Regions from separate parts of the Homo sapiens genome. Here region 1 is linked to region 2. A link means that fine-mapping ties the variant in region 2 to the expression of a gene that starts in the linked region. Tissue or cell type: sun-exposed skin. Region 2 holds a variant in brackets; the other region holds the start of a gene. All regions are shown on one strand. Distances are between the middles of the regions.

Region 1 (8,104 bases), 120 kb after region 2:
ACTATCAAAAAACAGAAAATGGCTGAGTGCAGTGGCTCACACCTGTAATCCTAGCACTTTGGGAGGCCAAGGTGGGCAGATCAACTGAGGTCAGGAGTTCAAGACCAGCCTGGCCAACATGGCAAAACCCTGTCTCTACTAAAAATATAAAAATTTGTTGGGCATTGTTACGAGTGCCTGTAATCCCAGCTACTCGGGAGTCTGAAGCAGGAGAATCACTTGAACCCGAGGGGCAGAGGTTACAGTGAGCCGAATTCGCACCATTGTACTCCGGCCTGGGTGACAAGACAAGAGTGAAACTCCATCTCAAAAAAGAAAAAAAATGAAAGAAAATAACAAACATTGGCAAGGATGTGGAGAAATAGGAACCCTGTGCACTGCTGGTGGGAATGCAAAATGGTGCAACCACTATATAAAACAGCACTGTGGTTCCTCAAAAACTTGAACGTAGAACTGCCATATGATCCAGCCATGGGTCATATCTTTTGGGTATATAACAAAAAGAACTGGAAGCAGGGTCTCAAAGAGAAGTTTGTATGCCCATGTTTGTAGCAGCATGATTCACAATAACCAAAAGTGGAAGCAACCCAAGACCAACAATGGACAAATGAATAAACAAAATGTGGTCTATAGACACCACAGAATACTATTCAACCTTTGAAAGGAAGGAAATTTTGACATATGCCACAACATGGATGAATCTTGAGGATATTATGCTAAGTGAGTTATGCCAGTCACAAAAGGACAAATACTGTATAATTCCACTTATATGAGGTACCCAACATAATCAAATTCAAAGAGACAGAAAGGAGAACAGTTGTCAGAAACTGGGGAGAAGGGCCAGGCGCAGTGGCTCACACCTGTAATCCCAGCACTTTGGGAGGCCGAGGTGATTGAATCACTTGAGGTCAGGAGTTCCAGACCATCCTGGCCAACATGGCAACACCCGATCTCTACTAAAAGTACAAAAAATTAGCCAGGCTTGGTGGCAGGTGCCTGTAATCCCAGCTACTCAGGAGGCTGAGGCAGGAGAATCGCTTGAACTGGGGAGGCAGAGGTTGCAGGGAGCCAAGATCGCGCCACTGCACTCCAGCCTGGGCAACAGAGAAAGACTCTATCTCAAACAAAAAAAAAGAAAGAAAGAAAAAGAAAAAAGAAAAGAAAGGAAACGAAATTCGGGGAAGAATGAATGGGGAGTTTTTAAATGTGTATTTAGTTTCTGTTTTGCAAGATAAAAACAATTCTGGTGATGGAGGGTGGTGATGGTTGCATAGCAATGGGAATGTACTTAATGCCACTGAACTGTGCATTTAGAAGGGGTTAAGATGGCAAATTTTATGTTATGTGTATCATACCACAATTTAAAAATAAATGAGTAAATGCAACAAATGAACTTACAATGCACCACATTTCTGGATACCCTGATCTCTTTGCAAACCCTTGAAAGGCCTCTTGGGAGGAAAAAATAATAATGAAGCATTTAGGATCAGGCTAATTTTCTCAGCATTCAATGCATGTTCCTCATAGAGATAGGATCAGAATCTTTACTGATTCAGGAGTCTATTCAATAACTGTAAGATCTTAGAGGATAAGTCTGCCTTCTCTAATGTACCCTTGTGGTATGTGAGCATGAGCCTGCCCAAAAGCAGCTGTGTGATAATTTTTCACTGATGATTAGGGAAGGAGAGGTTAAATTTTGACACGCATTTATTTACTCAACACGCACTTGAAAACTCCAAATAGGAGTCCTTCAATTGCACCTTCCGCATTACTCAGGTTCTACTGCCTCATGCTCTGAATTTTACTTCCTCCTTTGACAGCCACAAATCAGCACATCCAGTCTACAATTACCGCATTTCCACAGACCACGAGGACAGGTGAAGACATAGTTTGGGGAAGAACAGGCTATGTGGTTAAGGAGGTAAAGTCTCTAAGGATTTCAAAGAAAGGAGAAAAACTAAGCAAAGGTTAACTGATACCTGACTTTGGTCTCTAAAGGAAAATTTTCTCCCCCTCCTTCCTCTCCCCCAAGACCCTTGGGATCTGCAATGGTACCCCTCCCTAAGGCTTTTCACCACCCAGTTGTGACAACCCAGGTTCCCATGGCCCATCATTTATGCCTCTGTAGAGTTCTTACTTCATTCTGCCTTGGGCATCTGTCCTTTATTCACACCTGTGTCTCCCCACACTTTCCATCAGAGCTGAGACCACAGCTCCTTCCTCAGCTTCTCCCTGACCACCTTTCCAATCAGTGCAGAGCCCATGCCTGGCACAAAATGGAAGCTCAAAAAAACTGTCTGTTGAAATGAAATGTGGCTGTCTTGAAATTAGAATAAAAACCATTACTCCCAATCTGGATTTTATCAACATACCAGGGTAACCCTATAGGTTTCAGAGGGGAATGGGAAGATGAACCACGGTGGGCGGGAGGGCAGCATGGCCAAGGAGTTATTCTCAGAGATGAAAACTGTTAGGCAAAATCAGCAGGATCAAAGTAAAAAGGGTAGAGGTAGCTAGCTGGAGTTAAATAGTGATTTTGACCATTTTAGAAGAAGTACTCTCCCTTTGTCTTCCTGTTTCAACCACTGCCAAGAAAATAGGAACCCTGACTTAATTTCCCTATCATGGTTTAGAAGACAAAAGGTGCCCAGGTCATTTCATAGCCCCTCTCCTGAGACGTTGTTATGAGCTCTGTTGAACAGAGCACTTTGTATGGATGAGCTCAATTCTCACAACCACTCTGTATGGGAGAGGTTCTCATCCCTGAGGAATCACTTGACAAGGGTCACATAGTGATAGGTCATGGGTCTAGGTTTTGGGAGGACTGTTCTCCATCCCTTGCCCTTGAGCTTTGGGTAGTATCAGTAACCGCATCCAGGAGCCTCTGCCTTCCGTCTGCATCCACAGAGCCCCAGCTCCCACCTCTCCACTCACCAGCCCTGATGGAATAATGTCAATTCATGACCTTGCGCAACCGTGCACCTTTCAGCAATGATGTTGTCACAATTTACCTGCCAGCTGATTGCATCCAGCACTGAGTTGTTCCATTGTGCACTGGCCCAGGGACCATATGCAGTAATAACAACTACGTATTCTGCATCTATTATGTTCTGGGCACTATGCTCTGAGATTTATCTCTAATTCTCATACCAACCCTGAAAAATAAGGTGCCAGTAAATGCCATTTTACAGATGAGAAAACTAAGGTTCACAGAGTTTACCGGCCCAAAACAACACAGGCAGAGCTAGGATTCAAATCTATCTTACCTAGTTCCAAAGCTCATCCATGCTCTTCTCTCTATACCTCACCATCTCTGAACAAGAGTTCAGGCTGGGTGTAGTGGCTCACATCTGTAATCCTAACACTTTGGGAGGCTGAGGTGGGCAGATGGCTTAAGCCCAGGAGTCCAAGACCACCCTGGGCAACACAGCACAACCCTGTCTCTACAAAAATATGTAAACATTAGCTGGGTGTGGTGGCACGTGCCTATAATCCCAGCTACTTGGGAGGTTAAGGTAGGAAAATCACCTGAGCCCAGGAAGGTTGAGGTTGCAGTGCACTGTGATCGCACCACTGCACTCCAGTCTGGGTGACAGAGTGAGACTCTGCCTCAAAAAAAATAAGAGTTCAAAAGGTGATGGGGGGGCCAGATGCAGTGGCTCATGCCTGCTATCCCAGCACTTTGGAAGGCTGAGGCAGATGGATCACCTGAGGTTGGGAGTTTGAGACCAGCCTGACCAACATGGAGAAACCCCATCTCTACTAAAAATACAAAATTAGCCAGACATGGTGGCACATGCCTGTAATCCCAGCTACTCGGGAGGCTGAGGCAGGAGAATCACTCAAACCCAGGAGGTAGAGGTTGCAGTGAGCTGAGATCATGCCATTGCACTCCAGCCTGGGTGACAGAGCAAGACTCCATCTCAAAAAAATAAAATTAAAAAAGGTGGTGGTGGAGGGATCTGAAATATGAGATCCAGACACTTAGGGTCCACAGCCTCAACTTCTCCCTCAGTTCCTCCTGATCAGATGTAAGGCCCCTCCACCTTGTATGTCACTCAACAGCAAGCCCGCTTCCTTACCGTGGGCCGCTTCCAGATGATGCCTTGAGTTTGCGGAGAGCCTGGTCCAAGATCCTTGTAGCCCAAAGCTGATGGACATGCTGGGAACTCAGGGTCCTTAAATAGGACCCCTGAGTCCAAGCACTGTTGCCTCAGGGTCTTGAAATCCTGGCCCAAGTACTTCAAAGCGTTTTGGTTGGAGCCAAGACCTTGAGTGGCTGCCCGCTGCCTAGATACACCAGCTGCCTGGGCTGCCATGGCCGTGGGCTCTGTAGGGTGGACAGAAGGGCAGGGCTGCACTGTACTCTCAGACACCTGCTCCACTGGGAGGGGAGCTATAAGGCACTAAAGGAGGTGGAGCAGACAAACATTTCACCTGAGGCCCTGTTCCAGAAGGAAGTGAGTCATGGCCAGGGACAAATATGTACCCAAGGTCCAGGCCAATCTGCCCCACCTTCTTCTTCTGCCTTTTGCAAATAATTTGGGGTCTGGGAACTTTCCAGGGCCCATCCCAGGCCATTAGCCTAAGAAATCCATTAGGATCTTGACCCCACCCCGGCATTCCCTCCACACACCTCTTTGCAAGACCTGCTTACCTTGCTTCAAGCCCATTGACTGAGATGAGAAGGCTTATTGAGCAGCTTGAAGCAAATATTCATCAAGGAATTGGAGGCATGGCTCTGAGCAGGAAGAAGGCAAGTAGTTACAGGGGCCTCCTTTCCTGCCAGAAATGTTTTGGTGCATATTTCCTAGGAAGGCAAAAAATACCAGAGAGTAGTGATTCACAGGCCAGATTTGGAATAAGCCTGACTGGAGGAGGTTCCACCTGTGAGTGAACGCTTTGGCCTCTGACTGCCTCGGTTTCTATCCCAGCTCCCCCGGTAATTTGCTCTGTCATGTTGGGCAAGTTGTTTAACCTCTTTTCTCCTAAGTTTTTTTATCTATAAACTGGAAGAGCATAGGAGAGCCTACCACAAAGGGTTGTTCGGAAGAGTGATGAGATAGTACATGTCATCTGCTTAGAACAGTATGAAGTAACATTCAGTGAATGTCAGGTATCACTATTCCTTGAAGCCAGGATTCCCAGAAAGGCCTTGGAATCAGGAGCCTTGATTCCAATCTCAGAAGTGAGTTACAAGCTGTATGACCTTGGATTAGTCACTTCTCTCTGGGCTCCAGTTTCCTACATCTGGTCTACCCGAAGGATGTCAACCACACCAATGCTTTTTGAACTTCAGTGTTTGTGGCACACTAGAAAATGGTCCCCCAAGGATACCAGGTCCTCATCTTGAGAACCTGTAAATAGTCCCTTATCTGGGAAAAGGGTTTTTGCTGCTATGACTAAGTTAAGGATCTCGAGATGGGAAGATTATCCTGACCCTAAATACACAAGTGTCCTAAGAGGAAGGCAGAAGAAGATTTGACAATAGACAAAAAGGAGAGGTGATGAAATGAGGCAGGCAGAGGTTAGCGAGATCCTGCCCCACTCCAGGGAACACCAGCAGCCACAGGAGCTGGAAGGGGCAAGAATGGATTCTCCCCTAGAGCCGCTGGAGGGATGTGGGCCTTCCAACACCTCGATTTCACAGCCTTGGGACTTCTGGCCTCCAGAACGGTGACAGAATACATGTATGTTGTTCTAAGCCACCATATTTGTGGTCATTTGTTACAGAAGACGCAGGAAACAAATATAGTGTGCAGAAGAATCCCCTGGAGCACTCGCTCAAAATGCTGATTCCCTAATAGGTGCTACCACAAATCCTCCACCCCCATCCCTCCCAAAAAAGAGTTCTAATTCAGGAGGTCTGAAGTAAGACCCAGGAATCTGCAGTTTTTAAACCAGTACCACAGAGATGATGCTAATACAAGGATCCAGGGATGCCCTCTGAGAAGCTCTGGACCAGCCGACCTCTGAGGCCTCCAACTCTGACCTTCTAAGCCAATGACAGTCCACGTGTTAAGCACTTAGCTAGGTGGGTAGGTCTGAGCAAGTAGAAAGAAGGGTTGCTCCCAGGTGTTCAGAAAAACATGTGGTTTCCCAGGTTTCATCAGAAACTCAAGGCCAGGCCAGGCATGGTGGCTCAGATCTGTAATCTCAGCACTTTGGGAGGCTGAGGCAGGAGGATTGCATGAGCCCAGGAGTTCAAGACCAGCCTGGGCAACATAACAAGACCCAGTCTCTAAAAAAAAAAAAAGAAAAATTAGCTGGGCATGGTGGTGCATGCCTGTAGTCCCAGCTACTCAAGAGGCTGAGGTAGGAGGATCACTTGAGCCCAGGAGGTCAGGTCAAGGCTGCAGTGAGTCACCCACTCCAGCCTGGGTGACAGAGTGATGAAACCCTGCCTGAAAAAAAAAAAAAGAAAGAAAGAAAGAAAAAGAAATTCAAGGCCAAAATGGCCTTCAGAGGCTAAAGCTAGCCTCAGAAAGACTATGGTCCATGCCCCCTTGGGGACCCCGTCTTCCTTCCCTCAACATCACTTTCCCTTTGATTCCACATCTGCCCACTATTAAGCTCATCTAGTGTTCACAGTTACATTTTCACCGGCCCACACAGTTGACACGGTCTCACTTGGGTGGCCCCAACCACCCCTAAAACCAGAACCACAACTCCATTCAGTCAAAACAGAATGGTCATTGCAAATCTTGGCTGTGTCACTGCCAAGCTTAAAACCTCCAATGGCTGCCCACTGTTCCTGGGAGAAGAGTAAGGGGGATTTTGCACAGCCCATTAGACCTTGAGCAGCTGGCCCTGCCTACCTTTCCTCCTGCTCCATTCTCCCCTCCTGGCTTTCTTTCCATTCCTGGAATGTTGTGTTCTGTCCTGCTTCAGGGCTTGACACCTTCTGTGCCCTCCACCTGAAATGTTCTTCTCCCCACCCCAGCCCTGTTCATCCAGTAGACCTGGGTGCCCCAGAAAAGGTTTTCTGGACAACTCCACACCTCATACTAAGCCATTTTCCCCTCTTATACGCTCTCATAGCAACCTGCAAGACCCTGTCCCGCACCGATTCCTGTAATCATTTAATTAATGCCTCTCCACCCCATAAGGCTCTGATCTCCACGAGGACAATTACCCCTGTTTGTTTTACTCATTGTTGTATTCCTGAACCCTAGAAAGCTCCTGGAACATAGTAGGGACTCAATAAATATTTGTTGCATGAATATACACCTACAGGTATGAGATGTGCTGTGGATAAACGTGCACCAGGTATAATGGACCTGACACCTTCCGGCAGGGTCATTAGTTCATTAGCAAGGATCCTATGGGATTGTTTTTCTTGCCTCTTTCTCCCCTACACCTCCCAGAAACATTCCCCTTAGACTGACTAAAATGAACAAGCCCTTCCTCCATCCAATCACAGAATAAGCACAGCTGGTAATTTTCCTTCTGCACAAGGGAACTCCTTCGAGGTTAGCAATCTCCTTCCTACCCCACCTGCCTGAATTACCTCGCTCCCACATCCAGATGCTGTGCAAACAAACCCTTCCTCATCGAGGCTGGCAGGTCTGAGCCACTGAAAATAGAGCCTTCCTTGTATCCAGGCACAAAAAGAACAAGTGGAGTTGAGAAGTCTCTGCTCCCCAGCGCCTCATGAGCAGACAGCAAACATCTATGTGTTCTCCAGCCAGGTACCCAGGAGGAAGCAGCCTGCATCCACTGTCTCTGTCCACCTGGACAGATGTCTCTCCAGCCTCACACCCCAGGCACCACAGGAACCAGTGCCAGCTCCTTGCCAGGCAGCCTGAGGATCCACTAAGAGGTTGATGAGGGTGTGCAGACACAACTGACACACGCCTGGCAGCACCTCCTTAATAAGAACACTTCTCGGCAAAGAGCCCAGGTGAATGCTGCCTCTTCTCTGTGCACACCAGCCAAGTGGGGATGCTGAGCTGTATCTATACATGGCTCCTCTCAGTCAAAAGGATCAAGGCTGTATTATCCCCTTAGAAAGGAAGATAAATCACTCTGGTTGCACCCAGCGGTCCAAGTGTTCTTTTCAGATGATTAAAGTTTGCAAAGCTTGTTGTCTTGCATAACTATA
Region 2 (8,104 bases):
TCTGGCCAGCCTGGACTTCCTCAGCCCCTTCAGGTCCAGCTGCCCCTCGCCCCCAAGGTGCCAGCATTCCAGAAGCCCTGTCTATCATTTTCTGGGTCCCTGGCCTCCTAAAGGCAATGTCTGGTTCTGCCCCTTGGCCCTGCCCCTGCCCCACCTTGCACCTTGGGATTAATAGGATGGGGCTGGAGGACAGAGTGACTCACTGAAGAGGGTCTCCAGGCGGATCATACAAGCCACGAAGCTGTCAAAGTTGATGCCAAGCTTGCTGCACGCATACCGCAGGGCAATGGTCTGCTGCACCTGGCTGTTGAGGGTGAAACCTGAGGGCAGAGGGAGCCTGGGTCACAGGTAGAGTGGAGGACTCAGCACTGTCTCCCATAAACACTCAAGGAGCTGACATCCCAGGGGCCCCTCTGTGGTTCTGTATCAATCTGCAAACCAGGCCTGACTCTGCCTTCTCCAGGGGATCCCAGAAGGTGTCCTGCCATCCATCCCTCTCCTTGTAGCTACTCCTCACCAAGATCAGCCTAATTCCAGGTCCAGCGCTAGTACCAGCACCAACTCAGCCATGGGTCACATCAGCAAGCAAAAGCAGAGAAGGTGAGGGGGCTGCCTGTCTGGCCAGTTCCTGTCTGTCTCCTTCATAGCCCCTTCCTCTGTAATTGCTGTCACCTTCCCAGTAACAGGCAGAGATCTTGGAAAAATTCTAAAATATTATGCTATATGGAATCGAGCAATATTCTCCCCTTCCTGGACAGGGAAGGTACTCAACAAAGCTCTGTTGTTGCCTTGATATCCCATATAAGAAAGCTACAAATGATGATCATTAGCAATCATCATCATGAGAATAAATATTTACAATGTGCACACCTGGATCCCAAGACCCTGTCTACAGGATGTGTCCTCACCTGCCTTCCTGAGGGCTGTCCTCATCTCGTGGGCATCGATGGTGCCCGAGTGGTTATAATCAGTTTCCCAATAGATCTCCTAAAGCAGGAAAGAAATCCCAAGTAGAAAACAACCATTCACGGCCCCTGCCAGAACCATCTCCCTCCACCACACTGCTTTCTCAAAAGGCCAGGGACACTTTCAAAAGGAGACCCTATTGACTCCTCCCAAGAAGGTTTCAGAGCAAGCATAAGAGCTTGGCCAGTGCTGGCCCCTTTGCTGTCTGAACAGCAGGGCTTTCAGGGCAGTGGTTGGCATGAGAGTCTCTCATTGCCTTCTTGTTCCTTCATGACCAATGTGCCCAGGACTCAATAGTTTTGACCATGATTAAGGATGTGGTCAGAATACAATGGACCAGGAATGAGTGTAAGGGAGGATTAGAACAGAGGAGAGGATGCCCAGAAGGAAAAGAGAGTTACCAGATACTTCTGAATCTTCAGCCAGAGCGTCTTGAATTCCACCGCCCCCAAAGTGCCCGTTCCATTGCTCTAGGCACATTAAAGACCAACATGATTGAGTCCAAATTCTACATGCCTTATAGATTTCTTTCTCTTGTGAGCTTGCATGAGTGCCTTAAGGCCTTAGTGAACCTTCCATGTCTGTGGCAAGCAGAGCAGTGGGGGTGACGGTGTGTAACAGGTTCAAATAAAGATTAAAAAGTCAAACGTGCACCAAGGCTCTCCTCTGAGGCCAGGCACAGAGCTAGGAACAAAGGGCAAGTCATGAGCTGGCCAATCTGCAATATCGTGAATACCCTAATCATCCTGGTTTATTTACAGGGTGGAGCTGTATGATCTGTAAATTCGCTTCTACATTTACATTTCTGTGATTGATCATTCAGCTAATTAGAGTTTGTTGGAATGTCAAAATGTTATGGGAAAAGACATCAGGAGCCAGGAACCATGGGACTGGGAGTCTAAGCCACAGAATCTGCTCATAGGCCACTATACAACCAAACAGGAGGATATTATGAGGGATTTTCTGTGTCCAACTTACATTCACTCCACAACTTTTTTTTTTTTTTTTTTTTTTGAGACGGAGTCTCTCTGTCGCCCAGGCTGGAGTACAGTGGTGTGATCTCAGCTCACTACAACCACTGCCTCCAGGGTTCAAGCAATTCTCCATGTCAGTCTCCCAAGTAGCAGGGATTACAGGCACCCGCCACCATACTCCACTAATTTTTTTTTTTTTTTTTTTTTTTTAGTAGAGATGGTTTCACCATGTTGGCCAGTCTGGTCTTGAACTCCTGACCTCAAATGATCTGCCTGCCTCAGCCTCCCAAAGTGCCACGACTATTTTTTTTTAACGCTGTGCTAGTCAATAGGGATTTAGTTTTGAATGCACTTATGCTCCTAAAGTTAAGTTTTTTAGAGACTCTACAATTTTCTCACCAGTCACAACTAATCAATAAACAGTGCGTATGTTACAGCACCAATGTTAAAATTTTGAAACAGCCCCAGCTACTCAGGAGGCTGAGGCAGGGGGATTGCTTGAGCCCAGGAGTTTGAGGCTGCAGTGAGCTCAGATTATGCCTGTGAATAGCCACTGCACTCCAGCCTGGGCAACATAATAAGACCCCATCTCTGAATAAATAATTAGAATTCTAAAACAGACTATCACTTTAATTAGCCAAACAAAAAGTCCTGTAAGCCTCATACTTTAAGAAAGTCTGTGTTCTTGGATCTATAATCCGCACTGAGTGTTGAATGCATCATAGCCTTCAAATCCTTACTAATAATTCAACCAACACATCTCAGAACAGTAGTATGCAAAGGAAGCTAACACTCGGGGCTAGGTACTCTACATACTTGTATCTCATTTCATCCTAACAATAGCCACACAAGCTAGACATAATTATCCCATTTTCCAGGAGAAACTGAAGTTCAGAGCATTTAGTAACTTCCTCAAATTTATACACCTCAATAAGTGGTAGAGCCAGAATTTGGACCCCTGTCTGTTTCAAAACCTTTGTCCCAGAACACCAGTGGTCTTCAATTCCAGATAAAATTGCTTGCAGAGACCACACCTATGGAATCAGGATCTCCAGGAATCAGGGGTTTTTGTTTGTTTTGTGGTTGTTGTTGTTGTTGTTGTTGTTGTTGTTGTTGTTGTTGTTGTTTGAGACAGAGTCTCACTCTCTCACCCAGGCTGGAGTGTAGCAGTGTGATCTTCACTCACCGCAACCTCTATCTCCCAGGCTCAAGCGATTCTCGTGCTTCAGCCTCCCCAGTAGCTGGGATTACAGACATGTGCCATCACGCCTGGCTAATTTTTGTATTTTTAGTAGAGACAGGATTTCACTGTGTTCCAGACTGGTCTCGAACTCCTGGCCTTAAGTGATCTGCCCACCAGTGCCACCCAAAGTGCTGGGATGACAGGCATCAGCCCCTGCGCCCCGTCAATTTTTAAAATTTTTTTTCTAGCACTTTGTAGGACATGTGAAAGACTGTATTTTTAAACTGTATTTTTAACACCCCATGGGTGATAAAGTACTGATACATGCTATAGTAATTGAAACATCATGTTCAGTAAAAAAAGTCAATTACAAAGGACCACATATTGTATAATTTCATTATATGAAATGTCCACAATAGACAAATTT[G/A]TAGAGACAGAAAGTAAATTAGTGGTTGCCTAGGGATGGTCGTGGAGGTTGGGGGAAATGGAGAGCGACTGGTAATAGGAGTACAGGGTTTCTTTTTAGGGTGATGACAATGTTCTAAATTATGTGATGATGGTTGCTTAACTCTGAATACACAAAAGCCATTGCCTGATATACTTTAAATGAGTACGCTGTATGGTGTGTAAATGATATCTCAATAGAGTTGTTATTTTTTTAAGGATTCCATGGGTATTTCTGCTGATTCAGAACCACTGCCCCACACTACCTAAACTGTGGAACAGAAACTCCTGAAGAGTGGCAGAGAGTCACACTCCTCTTTGAACCGTGAGAGACACAAATACCATTGGGAATAAAGAGTGGGTAGATTACAAGGCAACTCTCAAATCTAAACTGAAGTCAACAGATGGGGTTTGATGAGAATGATTCAGAAACCAGGGAACTATTTGCAGTAAAGTGAATCAATACTTAACAGTTCCTTGCAGTCCACAAATTAAATTGTCAAGCATGGAGAAAAGACACGAGGGCTAAAGAGCCCCAGCCTCATGCAGGGAGTGGCCGACTGAAGCTCAGAGGCCAAAAGATAGCACCAGCCCTCCATGGTGGATCAGCCACGCAGAGGTGGGCACACATGCTCTGTCATCCAGGACCACTCTGCATGACAACCATGCAAAGGAAAATCCTTCCTCCCGTCCCGCAGTTAATGAAAGAACCCACAGTAAAGATCATCATGGATGAACAGACAGAGCTCATCATGGATGAGGCCCCAAGGAACTGAGAAAAACCCTCCAAGGCTCCAATTTTTAAAGAAATCACCTTCACCATCAGCACTGTGATAAATGGCAACCTGGACCCACTGTGGGCAAAGCTCTAAGGAAGTGATGTTACACCACTCACCCTCTGTGCCTTCACACCTAGAAGGTTCCTTCCACCTAGAATGCCCTGACCTTCTCCATTCCTCCCAAAAACTACTGCCCATTTGCTATAGACTGAGTGTTTTTGTCCTCCAAAATTTGTATGCTGAAACCCAATCCTCATGTGAGGATATTAGGAGATGGGCCTTTGGGAGGTAATTAGGTCATGAGGGTGGAACCCTCAGAAATGAAATTAGTGCCCTTATAAAAGGAACCCCAGGAAACTCCCTCACCCCATCTACCATGTGAAGTTATAGCAAGAAGATGCCATCTATGAACTAGGAAACTGGCCCTTATCCACCACAAAATCTACCAGCACCTTGATCTTGGCCTTCTCAGCCTCCAGAAGAGTAAGAAATAAATTTCTGTTGTTTATAAGCCACCCAGTTTATGGTCTCCTGTTACAGCAGCCAGAACAGCCTAACACACCATACTTCAATATCAAGTGAGGGTTAAACTAGATCAGGGAGAACAAATAGATTTTATCTTGTGTGATAACTCTAAACTATCAGTAGTAGCTGTCCACAAGCCATGTTAAGATTCTGAAGCAAAGATCAGATAGTGATGGGGAGAGCTTGGGAAGCAGGGAACGGTAGAGGGTGGGGGTGGGGACGGGTAGAATTGAAGGGGAGGAGGAAGATGAAGAGATGAACAGAGTGTGGAGGGAGCAGGTGCGCAAATGCCCCATGCTTGCTACCTCCAGATTACATGATTTTAAATAAGTCACCTAAACACTGCACACCTCGGTTTCTTCACCTGTGAAACGGAGATAATCTCAAGCTTTCTGAGACACATCCATGATATGATACATTTTCCTTTGAGGCTTCAAGTACAATCCTTGACATATGCTCCATGCCTGCTCTCTCCCCTTCTCATTTTTTACCCGTCCCTTCCTTCTAACTGGAAAAGGTGGAGGAGTCTTTAAAAACCGGACGAAAGTAAAAAAAAAAAAATAATGCAACATTTAAAGGATACATCCAACAGACTGATCATTTCCCTGCAAGTGTTGATGTTGAATCCATCGAATTTTATGTCTGTTCCTAAAGATTTAAATAGAAAAGGGGAGTGGGAATCGGATCATTTGAAGGTGAGGGAAAGAACCTCCACGGTAGAAGACCTCCAAAGATACCATCCAAGGGTGTGGAACCGAACTTGGTCTCTGCCAAAAGGGGAGAGCATCATGGCAGGCTTGTGGGCAGATACGCCTGAGCCTCCTGGTGCCGTGGGAGATAGAACAGACAAGCACCAGCATCCAAGTACAGCATCTGAACCTTGGCTTGGCTCCCCACAAGCCACAGACTTCAGCAAATTAATATCTTTGAGCTTTAATTTCCTCCTCCATCAAATGGGAATAATCATGATAGTAACAATGACCATACTTGCCCCAAAGACTGGCTGGGTATTAACTGAGATAATGAAAGTGAAGTTTTAGCCCAGGCTTGATATATGATAAGTTCTTAATAAAACAGCTAACTTTATATGGCTAGGTATTGTTATAAGCACTGCACATCTACTCTTCAAAATCACTCCGTGTGGTAGATGCTATCATTATACCCACTTTATAGATCAGGAATCTGAGTCCCAGAGAGGTTATATGATTTGCTCAAGGTCACAACCAGTAGGGGGCAAAGCTAGGAGTTAAATGCAGGCCAGCCAGCTCCACAGCCTGAGCTTGTAATCACAACACACAGCCACTCAATGACAGCAGCTATCCTTCCTTACTAAATTGCAGGCATGTCACTGGAGCTCCATCCCTGGCCTCCACCCTCACCTTCCATATACCTGGGAGCCAAGACAGGTGCCAAAGACCCTGCAACCCCTTCTCTTTCTCTCCACTCTTCAACAACTGCAGGAGCAAGAGTGGTGTGGAGAGGAGACGGGCCTGTGCTCCGAGCCCTGGGGATCCATCTGCTCAGCCCTGGGTTCGTCCCTGGGAAGGGTATGACTTGGCTCCTGGGCCAAGCCCCTGCTTCCTGCATTCTCAAGCCCTGTCCTGCTGCAGTGAGTGAATGAGAGCCCATCACTCACTGGAAGACTTAACCTGGCCCATCCCTGGACCCGGAAAGAAACCAGCTCCCTGTGTCCTCCTGTGGGCTGGGGCTCAGAGGGGAGATGCAAATCTTTCCTCCTGACAGCTCTGAGGCTTGCAAAAATCTGAAGATGGGGAACTGAGGACAGTCTAGGAGAGTCAGAATCATCCCTTCCTTCCTCCTTCCCTCAAGATGAGCTACAGAACTAGATCTTTCATCTGCAGAGGTTTCCACAGTATCCAAGTTATTAATTTTGTGAAAAAAATTCACTTAAGTCAATCCCAGCCCAGCTCTTTTTCTCCTGGGACTCAGCCTGCAATTTCACTTGACACTATGGAGCTTTGTTCCTTCAGGTGCTGGCTGCTTGCCAGCACCAGCCCCGCCTTCACCTCCACCCTCGCCTCCCCGTCTTCTGCCTCTCCTTCTTCCCCTCTTGTCTTGCTGGACTGAATCAGGGCTCCTGGGGTCAGACACCAATGCCCTTTCTCCCACCTGTGGTGCTGCCAGCCCAATGCCTGCCTACCCATCCCTCACCCTGCCCCAGCATCTCCTACGGACTTTCTGAAAGACCCCAAGAAGGAACTTACTCTTGGAAAACGCCTCATTCAAAAGTATCTTGAGTGCATTGGCAGTAATCTCAGAATCCTAGAAAGAGGAACCCAAATGCAAATCATGTCAGGCCCTGACAAGTTGTTTCAAGACAGTAAATTAATGCAGTGCTTCCTCACAGTCAGACACCAGGCCCACTGGCCCTGTGAGGTTTATTTGTTTTTGTTTTTTGTTTTTTTTTGAGACAGTCTTACTCTGTCACTCAAGCTGGAGTGTAGTGCCGCAATCTCTGCTCACTGCAACCTCCATTTCCCAGGCTCAAGCAATTCTCCTGCCTCAGCCTCCTAAGTAGCTGGGACTACAGATGCGTGCCACCACGCCTGGCTAATTTTTGTATTTTTAGTAGAGACGGGGTTTCACCATGTTGGCCAGGATGATCTTGAACTCCTGACATCGTGATCTGCCCACCTCAGCCTCCCAGAGTGCTAGGATTACAGGCATGAGCCACCGTGCCCGGCTGGCCCTGTGATTTTAAAAGCAGGTGGCATCTTTAAAAACTCAAATTATCCTCTTCTTTTGGGGATCCCAGCAGCCTGGCCAGAGGTGTGTTAGTGCCATGAGTGTGGTACACACCGTGGCAGAAGGCTGCCATGCCAGGGTCCTGCTGCCTTTCACAGGGCTCGCTTGAACAGGGATAAAGTAACAGGAACAGCAGTGATAGGATTGAACCAGATGTGCCAGAGCCAGTGTGGAAGATCCTTAAATCCTCAGCACAATTCCACAGCCATTTTCAAGTTAAGGAAGTCGTGATTTTGTAAACTGCTGAACACTGTATACATGCAACATCATTTGTCATTTTCATGTGACGTAATTGCTTGTGGTTTGTAGCTACCAAGAGGCAGAGCTAGACTTGGAAACCTAAGGTTGGTTCACCCCAAAGTGCCGGCTTTCCCCACCACACCTACAGGAGTTGGTATTTCACATAGGAGCCCATCTCAAACTGGGGGCAGAGATTGAGAGAATAGCATATTCTGTGTGCATCTGGG

The links. PIP is the estimated chance that this variant, and not a neighbour inherited with it, causes the effect.
Region 1: CAPN8 starts here. The variant in region 2 is fine-mapped to the expression of CAPN8 in sun-exposed skin (GTEx, PIP 0.91).

Annotation. Positions count from the first base shown.
Region 1 is chr1:223,661,328-223,669,431 of GRCh38, forward strand. CAPN8 (calpain 8) reads right to left here and starts at 4,374. Exons shown (of 21, transcript NM_001143962.2): 1 at 4,083-4,374. The coding sequence starts at 4,319.
Region 2 is chr1:223,543,864-223,551,967 of GRCh38, forward strand. It overlaps CAPN8 (calpain 8), which reads right to left. Exons shown (of 21, transcript NM_001143962.2): 15 at 7,097-7,154; 16 at 5,455-5,519; 17 at 1,368-1,436; 18 at 909-987; 19 at 204-320. Among named protein-coding and RNA genes, the nearest start is that of CAPN8, 120 kb to the right of the region's middle. RefSeq lists enhancers at 6,893-6,942, 7,343-7,402. The variant G/A (reference allele first, on the strand shown) is at 3,551.